Linked DNA regions of Homo sapiens. The protein of the gene in region 3 interacts with the protein of the main gene of each other region in a pairwise test. Each region holds a gene or a part of one and is shown on either strand. Other genes may lie near its edges.

Evidence for each region.
Region 1: the proteins of PRKAA2 (region 3) and STAC2 interact in binary tests that used the Homo sapiens proteins (3 or more experiments, as listed by UniProt).
Region 2: the proteins of PRKAA2 (region 3) and KIF24 interact in binary tests that used the Homo sapiens proteins (3 or more experiments, as listed by UniProt).

What each region holds. Positions count from the first base shown.
Region 1 is NC_000017.11:39,219,352-39,223,006, forward strand, and holds part of STAC2 (SH3 and cysteine-rich domain-containing protein 2), read right to left. Parts: intron 1-3,655. UniProt on the Homo sapiens protein: Plays a redundant role in promoting the expression of calcium channel CACNA1S at the cell membrane, and thereby contributes to increased channel activity. Slows down the inactivation rate of the calcium channel CACNA1C.
Region 2 is NC_000009.12:34,319,130-34,322,784, forward strand, and holds part of KIF24 (kinesin-like protein KIF24), read right to left. Parts: intron 495-3,655; exon of another isoform or gene 379-494; coding exon of another isoform or gene 311-378; intron 1-310. UniProt on the Homo sapiens protein: Microtubule-dependent motor protein that acts as a negative regulator of ciliogenesis by mediating recruitment of CCP110 to mother centriole in cycling cells, leading to restrict nucleation of cilia at centrioles.
Region 3 is NC_000001.11:56,713,565-56,715,980, forward strand, and holds the end of PRKAA2 (5'-AMP-activated protein kinase catalytic subunit alpha-2), read left to right. Parts: 3' UTR 1-1,771; downstream 1,772-2,416. UniProt on the Homo sapiens protein: Catalytic subunit of AMP-activated protein kinase (AMPK), an energy sensor protein kinase that plays a key role in regulating cellular energy metabolism.

The DNA.
Region 1 (3,655 bases), on a different chromosome or scaffold from region 3:
CTCTTTATCCTGCCAATATGCTTCCACTGGTCCTTCCTCCTCCAGGAACTCTCTTCTGCAGGAATTCTGTCTCATGACCCACTCCCTCCTCTGGTGTCCACTGCATCCAGCCCAACTTCCACCACAGCTCCACTCGGGTGATGCTTGTTATTTATTTCTCACTCCCCCAGGAGATTGTGAGCCCCTTGGGGACGGACACAGTTGCTGGCTTCAAATCCCCACGCAGGCTCTCAACACATAGTAGGTGCTCAATCAGCAGCCTTTGGTGAATACATGAGCCAGCGGCTGGACTCTCCTTGAAGCCTACATTCTGGAGGGCAGGGTCGATTCTGCGGTGAGGCCAGAGCTATTTCCACCTCTCATTCAAACACACCCTACTGAGTCTTCCCAGAGAGAGGTCTGGAAACCTCTTGACCCAGAGCCTTGGCCGTCTCCCTTCCCGTTGAGAGGCGGCTTACCCCTGCCCACTCCTTTCTATTAGAGACAGAAACAGGGGCCAGCAGCCTGGCTCCAGGCAGAGGGACTTGGCCAGGGTTCCCAGCTGGCACGCTGGGTAGCCTACGTGCCATGGCTGCCTGCCTGGCCACCCTGCCAAGGGGATGGAAGTGGTGGCCCCACCAGCCTCCGGGAGGCCAGCAGGCAGCAAGACAGAGGGGGAAGCAGAGGGGATGTTTGGGCACAAGGCAGGCTCTGGTGTGCCAGTTGGGAGGCCAAAGCCCTGGGGTGTCTGGCACACTGAAGGGCTCAGTGCCTTCCAAACCCAGCTTCCTGGATAGCACTGTGGGCTTCTTTGTGTATCTATGAGAAGCAAGGCCCCAGGCCCCAGATGCCTGGGCCTTGGAGCATAGGTAGAAGGCTGGAGAGACAATTAATGAGAACACAAAACTCAGCCCAGGTCAGGCTCTGGGCCAGCCAGGACCAAGTGTGGCTCTGGGGGCTTGGATGGGCCCCAAGAGGCAGGTGAACCGTCCACTGTTCTGTCCAGGGACCTCAGGCATGGAGCACACAGGGTCGCCGGAGGATGTGCTGGGGCTGGGGGCAAAACTAAACCTACTGCCTGAAGGCAAATCACCCCACTTCTTCTCTCTGAGCCTCAGTTTCCCCACATCCAAGAGGGAAGCCTAGATACTCTTTTTTTTTTTTGATGGAGTCTCACTCTGTCACCCAGGCTGGAGTGCAGTGGCACGATCTCAGCTCACTGCAACCTCCACCTCCTGGGTTCAAGTGATTCTCCTGCCTCAGCCTCCCAAGTAGCTGGGACTACAGGCTCCTGCCACCATGCCCGGCTAATTTTGTATTTTTAATAGAGGCGGGGTTTCACTGTGTTAGCCATGATGGTCTTGATCTCCTGACCTCGTGATTTGCCCGCCTCGGCCTCCCAAAGTGTTGGGATTACAGGCGTGAGCCACTGCACCCGGCCTATCATTTTTATTTTTTATTTTACTTATTTATTTATTTATTTTGAGACGGAGTTTCACTCTGTCGCCCAGGCTGGAGTGCAGTGGTGCAATCTTGGCTCACTGCAAGCTCCGCCTCCCGGGTACACGCCATTCTCCTGCCTCAGCCTCCCGAGTAGCTAGGACTACAGGCGCCCGCCACCACGCCTGGCTAATTTTTTGTATTTTTAGTAGAGACGGGGTTTCACCGTGTTAGGCAGGATGGTCTCGATCTCCTGACCTCGTGATCCGCCTGTTTCGGCCTCCCAAAGTGCTAGGATTACAGGCGTGAGCCACCATGCCTGCCCTCTTGTTTTTATTTTTTTGAGACGGAGTCTTGCTTTGTTGCCCAGGCTGGAGTGCAGTGGCACGGTCTCAGCTCACTGTAACCTCCACCTCCCAGGTTCAAGCGATTCTCCTGCCTCAGCCTCCCAAGTAGATGGGATTACAGGCGCCTGTCACCACACCTGGCTAATTTTTTGTATTTTTTTTTAGTAGAGATGGGGTTTCACCGTATTGGCTAGGCTGCTCTCGAACTCCTGACCTCATGATCCGCCCACCTTGGCCTCCCAAAGTGCTGGGATTACAGGCGTCAGCCACCGCGCCTGGCCAAGACTGGACACTCTCTAACCAATAAAAGGCTCTAGGTCCAAATATCCCCAGAAACTTACATCTCTGAGGGGCTGTCATGGTCAGAACATTGGAATTGAGCTAGCACTTTATATGCAGCATCTCATTAATCCTGATGCTGCCCTTGGAAGTAGTGATAATTACTGTCCCACTTTTCAGATGAGGAACTGAGGCTTATAAGGGTTAAATCACTTACCCAGGAGTCCTCAGCTGGTAAACAGCAGAGCCAGGACTTGAACCAGCGGCTTCGGCTGCTGAGCCCAAAGCACCAGGAGCATCCTGCTGTGCTGAGCCCTGCATGGGCCTCACCCTCGCCTCTCAGCTGGGCCCTGCCTGGGCCTCACCCTCGCCTCTCAGCTGGGCCCTGCCTGGGCCATCACCCTCACCTCTCAGCTGGGCCAGGGGCTTGTCCACAAGGTCAATCAGAGAGTTTAGGGTGAGAAGGGACCTGGAAGACTGGCCACCTAGAGCAGTCCCCAACTCATCACCCTGCGATGGCCTGGCCACATCCCGTCTCAAGAGTTGGTCACCTCTTGTGATGGGAAGCAAGCAGTCTCTTGGGACAGTCATTCCATCTTTGGGCAGCTCCAATGGCTGCAAAGTGCTTCCCCATATAGAGCTGAAACCTGCCTCCCTGGGATTTTCGCCTATCAGCCCTCCTTCCTCCCTTGGCTCCAGAAAGGGCTACTCCCTCTCATACACTTCAGCCCTTCAAATATTTGAAGACACCATCAGTCATGTTCCCCCCATCCCCAGGCCCTTGTTTCCATAGTAATCCTCATAGGAGGAGGTTCCAAGTCTCCCTACCCTCCAGGCTGTGTCCTTTCCTGGTACCCCTTGGTCTCAGTGCCAAGAGCCACCTCTGCTAGGTACCGGAGGCCTCTGGAACAGAATGTTCCCGGGTACCAGGGCAGCCCCGACTCTGCCGGCCGACTCCCTGGCTTGGCTGTGGGCCCCAGATCCCAGGGGGGTGGAGAAGCGAGAAGGAATGACATGCCACCTGGGGTGGCTGGCAGAGATCAGACTGTGGCTACAGGTCTGGGTTGGGGCATCTCTGCCAAATGACTTGATGCCTGACCACTTCAGAGACATCGGGCTTGGCTACCCAAACCACATTTTGGCTCAGCCAGGCCAGGTATTCCGGCTCCTGGGGCTCCTCATTCCTGGAGAGGACCTTTGCCCATCTCTTCTCCCCACTATACTTTTGGTGCCCTCACTTCCCTGGGACCCATTCTCTGGCATGGGGAGAAGCTGCCATGTACCTTGGCAAGTGGGCCTGCCTGGTCACTCTTCCCTCCCAACGCATCCAGAGTTTGTCCAGCTAGGAGCCTGGACCACAAAGTCTGTTCTTCTGAATCCCCTCCCAGAGACAGGGCCTGGCCTGCCTGTTTCCTCCCCACCTCCCCATATCCTGGACGGCCCCTTATTTCCTCAATTCCCCACGGCGTCTCCTGAAAGGGCATGAGGCATCTGGCAGTGGGTGGTGGCAGACGTGGCACAAGCTGACTCACAGCAGAGATGGCATGGGGTGGTCCTCCCAGGGGTGGCAACAAAGGGTGATGGGCAGGCCTTATGTGATAAGAAGGGAA
Region 2 (3,655 bases), on a different chromosome or scaffold from region 3:
TACAACTACTATGACAATGAGAAGGAAAAGCTGCAAATCGTGGAGATGCCCCTGGCCCACAAGCTCTCCAGCCTCATCATCCTCATGCCCCACCACGTGGAGCCCCTCGAGGCCTTAAAAAGCTGGTAACCAAAGAGCAGCTGAAGATCTGGATGGGGAAGAAGCAGAAGCCTGTCGCCATCTCCTTGCCCAAGCGGGTGGTGGAAGTTCCCATGACCTGCAGAAACTCCTGGCTAGGCTTGGCCTGACTGAGGCCATTGACAAGAACAAGGCAAACTTGTCACGCATGCCACACAAGAAGGACCTGTACCTGACCAGCGTGTTCCACGCCACCGCCTTTGAGTTGGACACAGACGGCAACTCCTTTGACCAGGACATCTATGGGAGCAAGGAGCTGCGCAGCCCCAAGCTGTTCTACTCCGACCACCCCTTCATCTTCCTGGTGTGGGACACCCAGAGCGGCTCCCTGCTGTTCACTGGGCACCTGGTCCGGCCTAAGGTTGACAAGATGCAAGACGAGTTTTAGGGCCTCAGGGTGCACACAGGATGGCAGGAGGCAGCCAAAGGCTTCTGAGACACATGGGTGCTACTGGGATTCGGGGGAGGTGAGGTACCAGCTTGGATACTCCATGGGTGGGGGTGGACAAACAAACCAGGGTTCCCGTGTGCTTGAACGGCCCTTCCCAGCTAGAATTTACTCCACTTGGACGTGGGCCCCAGATACCATGATGCTGAGCCCAGAAACTCCACATCCTGTGGTACCTGGGCCATAATCATCCTGCCTGCCCTCAAAGTCCCAGATCAAGCCTGCCTCAATCAGTGTTCATATTTATAGCCAAGTACCTTCTCACCTGTGAGACCAAATGGAGCTAGGGGGGTCAGCCAGCCCTCTTCTCCTGACACTAAACCACCTCAGCCACCTCCCCAGCTCTATCCCAGTCTCTCCCAACTACAAAACTAGGTGCTGCAGCCCCTGGGACCAGGCATCCCCAGAATGACCTGGCCCCATTGAGGCAGATCGAGAAAGAGCTCACAGGACAGGCTTCTGGGCAGACTCTGGTCAAGAATGGCGTCATGGGGATGAACTTTTTGTTTCTTTTTTAGTTCTTCAAAGATGGGGAGGGAAGGGGGAACATAAGCCTTTGTTACTATCAAACCAAGAACTTATTTATACAGTTTTTCTTTTCAATAAAATGTTCCAACAAAAAAAAAAAAAAAAGAAAAAGAAAAGAAATAGGCTATAACCAGCCAGGCAGGGTGGCTCGTGCCTGTAATCCCAGCACTTTGGGAAGCAGAGGCAAGCGGATCACCTGAGATCAGGGGTTCGAGACCAGCCTGGCCAACATGGCGAAACCCCATCTCTACTAAAAATACAAAAATTAGCTGGGCATGGTGGCGGGCACCTGTAATCCCAGCTACTCGGGAGGCCGAGGCAGGAGAATCTCTTGAACCCAGGAGGCGGAGGTTGCAGTGAGCCAAGATTGCACCACTGCACTTCAGCCTGGGTGACAAGAATCAAACTCCTTCTCAAAAAAAAAAAAAAAAAAAAAAAGGAAAAAAAGAAAAAGGCTATAACCTACAAATAGCTACAGATCTCCCTTGGGAAGGAGGGGAGAGGGGAGGACCTAAACTAATTTTTCTCTTTCCACAAATTTAAGTATGTTTGAATTCAGGTTGCCAAAATGTTACTGAAATGACCTTTATTTTACCTGTACCCCAGGATTTTTGCTCTAGATCTCTTTAGACAGGCTTACCAGGATAATGACCCTTCTCCATGTACTTAGCTATATCTGCATTGTTCAAATGTGTGCTTTTATTTTTATTCACTGTTTTCTTTGTAGTTACGTATTTTATTGTAAGACCTCCCTCCATCCTTCTTAGAAATAGATTAACATAATTATTGACATGTCACTAGATTCAGAAGGTAACTAACACTAAAGCACTGGTATAACACATCAGAGACATCCAATAAACATAGGCCCTTAAACTACCACTGCCACCAAACACATTCTTATTCTGTAGGGAGGGAGATGGAATTGAACAGGGAGCAAAATACCTACATGGTTTATTTTTTCTATTTCAAGATGTTAAATAAGATTTTTATTTCAAATATCTGTCAGTAGACTACCAAAGTGTTTGCGCAGTAGTAACTAGTATAGCAGATTACTAGATTAGGAGGCAAAAAAAAACCGAGGACTCAGTCAGTCTCTGCTAAGAACCAGGTGTGATACATGGTCAAATTATTTAACATCTATGAGTCTCTGCTTCTTCAAGTTTAAAATTGAAATAATGTATACAGGCATTGACAGTAAAATTAGATATGTTAAAGTACTCTCTACAAGTGTACTGATTACGCATTTGCAGGAGACAGGTTCTGTAACGCACCCACTAAGTGTCTGGAACAAAACAGGCACAGTGATCTACCGATAGCATTAAAAAAAAAAAAAAAGCTATACATACATACATACTTCTTCTTTTTTTTTTTTTTTTTTTTAGAGAAAGCGTCTCACTCTGTCGCCCAGGCTGGAGTACAGTGGTGCAATCACGGCTCACTGTAGTCACAAACTCCTGGGCTCAACCAATCCTCCTGCTTCAGTCTCCCAAGTAGCTGGGACTACAGGTGCATGCCACCAAACCTGACTAATTTTTTTATTTTTTGTAGAGATGAGGTCTCCCTATGTTGCCCAGGCTGGTCTGGAACTCCTGGGCTCAAGCGATCCTCTTGCCTCAGCCCCCAAAGTGTTGGGATTACAGGCATGAGCCACTGTGCCTGTCCTACATTATATTTTTGTAAGATTTTTTTAAAAGGAGTCCTACAGCTAGCCAGGTCAACAGAGATAATCTAATCTGTAGCTGATCTAGCCTATAATATTTGGTCCATGAAGGATTATCTTCATATTTTGCAGTCTGGCTTGCAAAGTGTTTAAATTTTTTTTTAATTTGTTGTACTGTTTAAAAAATTAGGAGCAATTAAAAATACCCAGTTCCTGCTTTTCCTGAAAATTAAAAGATGTAGTTATATCGGGCCTGCAATTAGATAAGGAAGTAGTAGACCAAAACAGAGTAGTGGCTGTCCCCTTTAGAAGGGCATATACTCTTCTAATACACCCCATGGTCCTGCCTGCTCCTAGTCCCTTTATAGCAACCAACTTTATTCATTTACATTAAGAAACCCAGTACCCAGTGGTAGTCACTCCCAATTTCCCCCCAACCCATCTAGCCCTAGACAAACACTAATAATGATCACTTTTTTTTTTAAGAGATGAGGTCTCAATGTTGCCCAGGCTGGTCTCAAACTCCTGAGTTCAAGTAATCCTCCTGCCTTGGCCTCCTAAAGTGCTAGGACAGGCATGAGCCACTGCACCCAGCCTAATAATAATCACTTTTAAAGAAGTTGCTAACAAAGTCACTGGGCCCGCTGGACTATTAGAAACTGATACAAGGCCAGGCACTGTGGCTCATGCCTATAATCACAGCACTTGGGGAGGCCAAGGTGGTTGGATCCCTTAAGCCCAGGAGTTTGAGACCAGCCTGGACGACATGGTGAAACTCCATCTCTACAAAAAATATAAAAATTGGCTGGGTGTGGTGATGTATGCCTTTAGTCACAGCTACTTGGGAGGCTGATATTGCGGGGTACTGCTTGAGCCTGGGA
Region 3 (2,416 bases):
ATGAAAACTTTTTTGAATAATACGTAGAATTTTGACAAGGTTCATACAGTGCATACAGTGTGACCTTTTCTGAGGTGGGCAGGGAGGGTTGCTACGTTGTGTTGATTTAAAATTTCAAGGAGGAACAAAAACATTCTAGCCAAGGAGAATTGCATTGTTATTTTTTTTTCTACTAATTTAAACGTGCATTTTTCACAGTTACACATTTAAGTTTTGCTACCAAAAATGGCCATTTTTCTAGACAGATAACATTTTCCTAAAGTGGAAGAGAGATCCACTGTTCTAAAAAAAAAAAAAAAAAAAAACACTAAATTGTGCCTTCTCCCTTAAATTATAAGAAGAGTAATAGTAAAAACTTGTTTAAACTATATTTTCTTTTTTTCTAATCCCTCTCAGTTCTCCTTAGATCTGCCTCCTACAAATGATCATGTTGTTTGCATCTGCCTGATTGAGTTCCCTTGGTCAAACCTCTCCCTATCACTATCAGAAGTTGTTCACTAAATGTATTTTCCTATTTCTTTCATGTTGATTGACTTTATAAGTCACCTTGGTAAACATAACATTTGGCTACCTTCTCATGCTTTATAAATGAATTTGATGAATGGCAGTTTTTATATTTTAACCCTTTAAAAAGTTTGTCAAGGAAACAACTCAGAGCTAAGAACAAAATCTAACTTGGAATCAGTTTCTTCCTTTGGCTGCTGAAGCAGCAGCAAGTCACGTAACCTCATTTAGTTTTTTGATTTACAAAATGTGGATAATAACCTACCTCACAGATGTGTGTGAGCAACTGTTTGAAAGCCCTTGTTTAAATACAGGGTTTATATCCCCACATTCAATGTAAATTCCTTTTTTTAAAAAAAATAAGTATCTTTGATACTGATAGGATGAGTATCTTGATTTTTAGGTAAGATCACAGTTTCACAAATTGTGGTGTTGTTAGGTGACATTTAATATTTCTTGAGACCTCAAGTATTCAAATATCAAACTTGTCCTGTGTTGTAACAAATATTCAGAATCTCTTAAAATGTTGGCTGAAGCTGCCTTAATGTACCAAAATACAGCTCTCAAGACTGTTCACAAATATCTGTGGTTGTACAATGTTTTGAACATTTAATGTAAAGTTGTTGTAGAACTGTGAACTCTAAGGATAGTATCTTTATTGTTTTAGGAAGAATGGTTGTGTTCTTTGTCATGTATGCTTAAATATACAGTGGATTTTGAATGCAACAAATAAAACTGAAAACAGCCATTTGGTTGTGTCATGACAATCATAATATAGGATATAATATTTACTTTTTTTCAAAAACATCCTGCATTCATTCATTCTTAGCATACCTTTGAAAAAGAAAAAAAAATCCATAGGTTGATACATTGACCCATTGAAGTACTTCATTACGTATTTATTGAAAATTTTTTTTAATTGTTGAAATTGGGACCACTTTTTATAATTGGTTTCAAGAAAAAAAAATGAACAGACTTCCAGTGCTTTTCTGTTCAAATAAACTCCGATTCAAATTTCAGTTTTGTTTGTTATATACTTTTTGTGAGTGTTAAATGATATGGGAAGGATTTGTCTTTCATTAACCATATGGAAAAGATGTCTTCCTGAATTACATAGCATTTCATAGTTACAGATTCTTCCTAATTAATGTTTGCACCATATGAAACTCATAGGTAACAAACACAAAGGAGAAAAGCAGCCTGTCTGATTGCTTATAAGCTTTTTTCACAAAATCAAATTAAAAGTCTCTGATTCATTTGAAAGCTATTTTTGTTTCTGCTCCATCATTATGCTGGTATTCTGCACACCAACTAATAGTTACAGGAAAGTTGTTAGTGGAAAAGATTGCCTATACTCATTGGTGATTTCACACCATCTTTTTTCATTTTTGTCATCTTAGTTGTACATTATAGTTTTTAACTTGAGTTATTGCATTGGTTTTCTACTGTTGCTGTAACAAATTACTACAAACTTAACGACTTAAAATACAAATTATTTTATTGTTCTATATGTTAGAAACCCAGCAGGCTTAGCTGGTTTTTCTGCCTCAAGTCACACAAGCTGAAAACCAAAGCATTGATAGGGCTGGGCTGTGGAGGAGAATCTGTTTCCAGTTGCATTGAGTTGTTGGCAGAATTTCATTCCATGGTGCTGTAGGATTGAGGTCCCTGTTGCCTTTTTGGCTGTTGGCTAGGAATCATTTAAAGCTTCTAGAGGCCATCATCCCTTGGCCCTTGGCTCCCTTCATCTTCAAAACCAGCAACAAGTGGCTTATGGGTTGGATCTCTTCTTCCTTCTCTTCAACTACATGTTTCTGACTTGCTGAGACTGACTTTACTGCCTTCCTTTTCAAATTTTAAGGGCTTATGTGATTAAGTTGGGCCCACCTGGACTATGTGCTTTTTGAAAAGC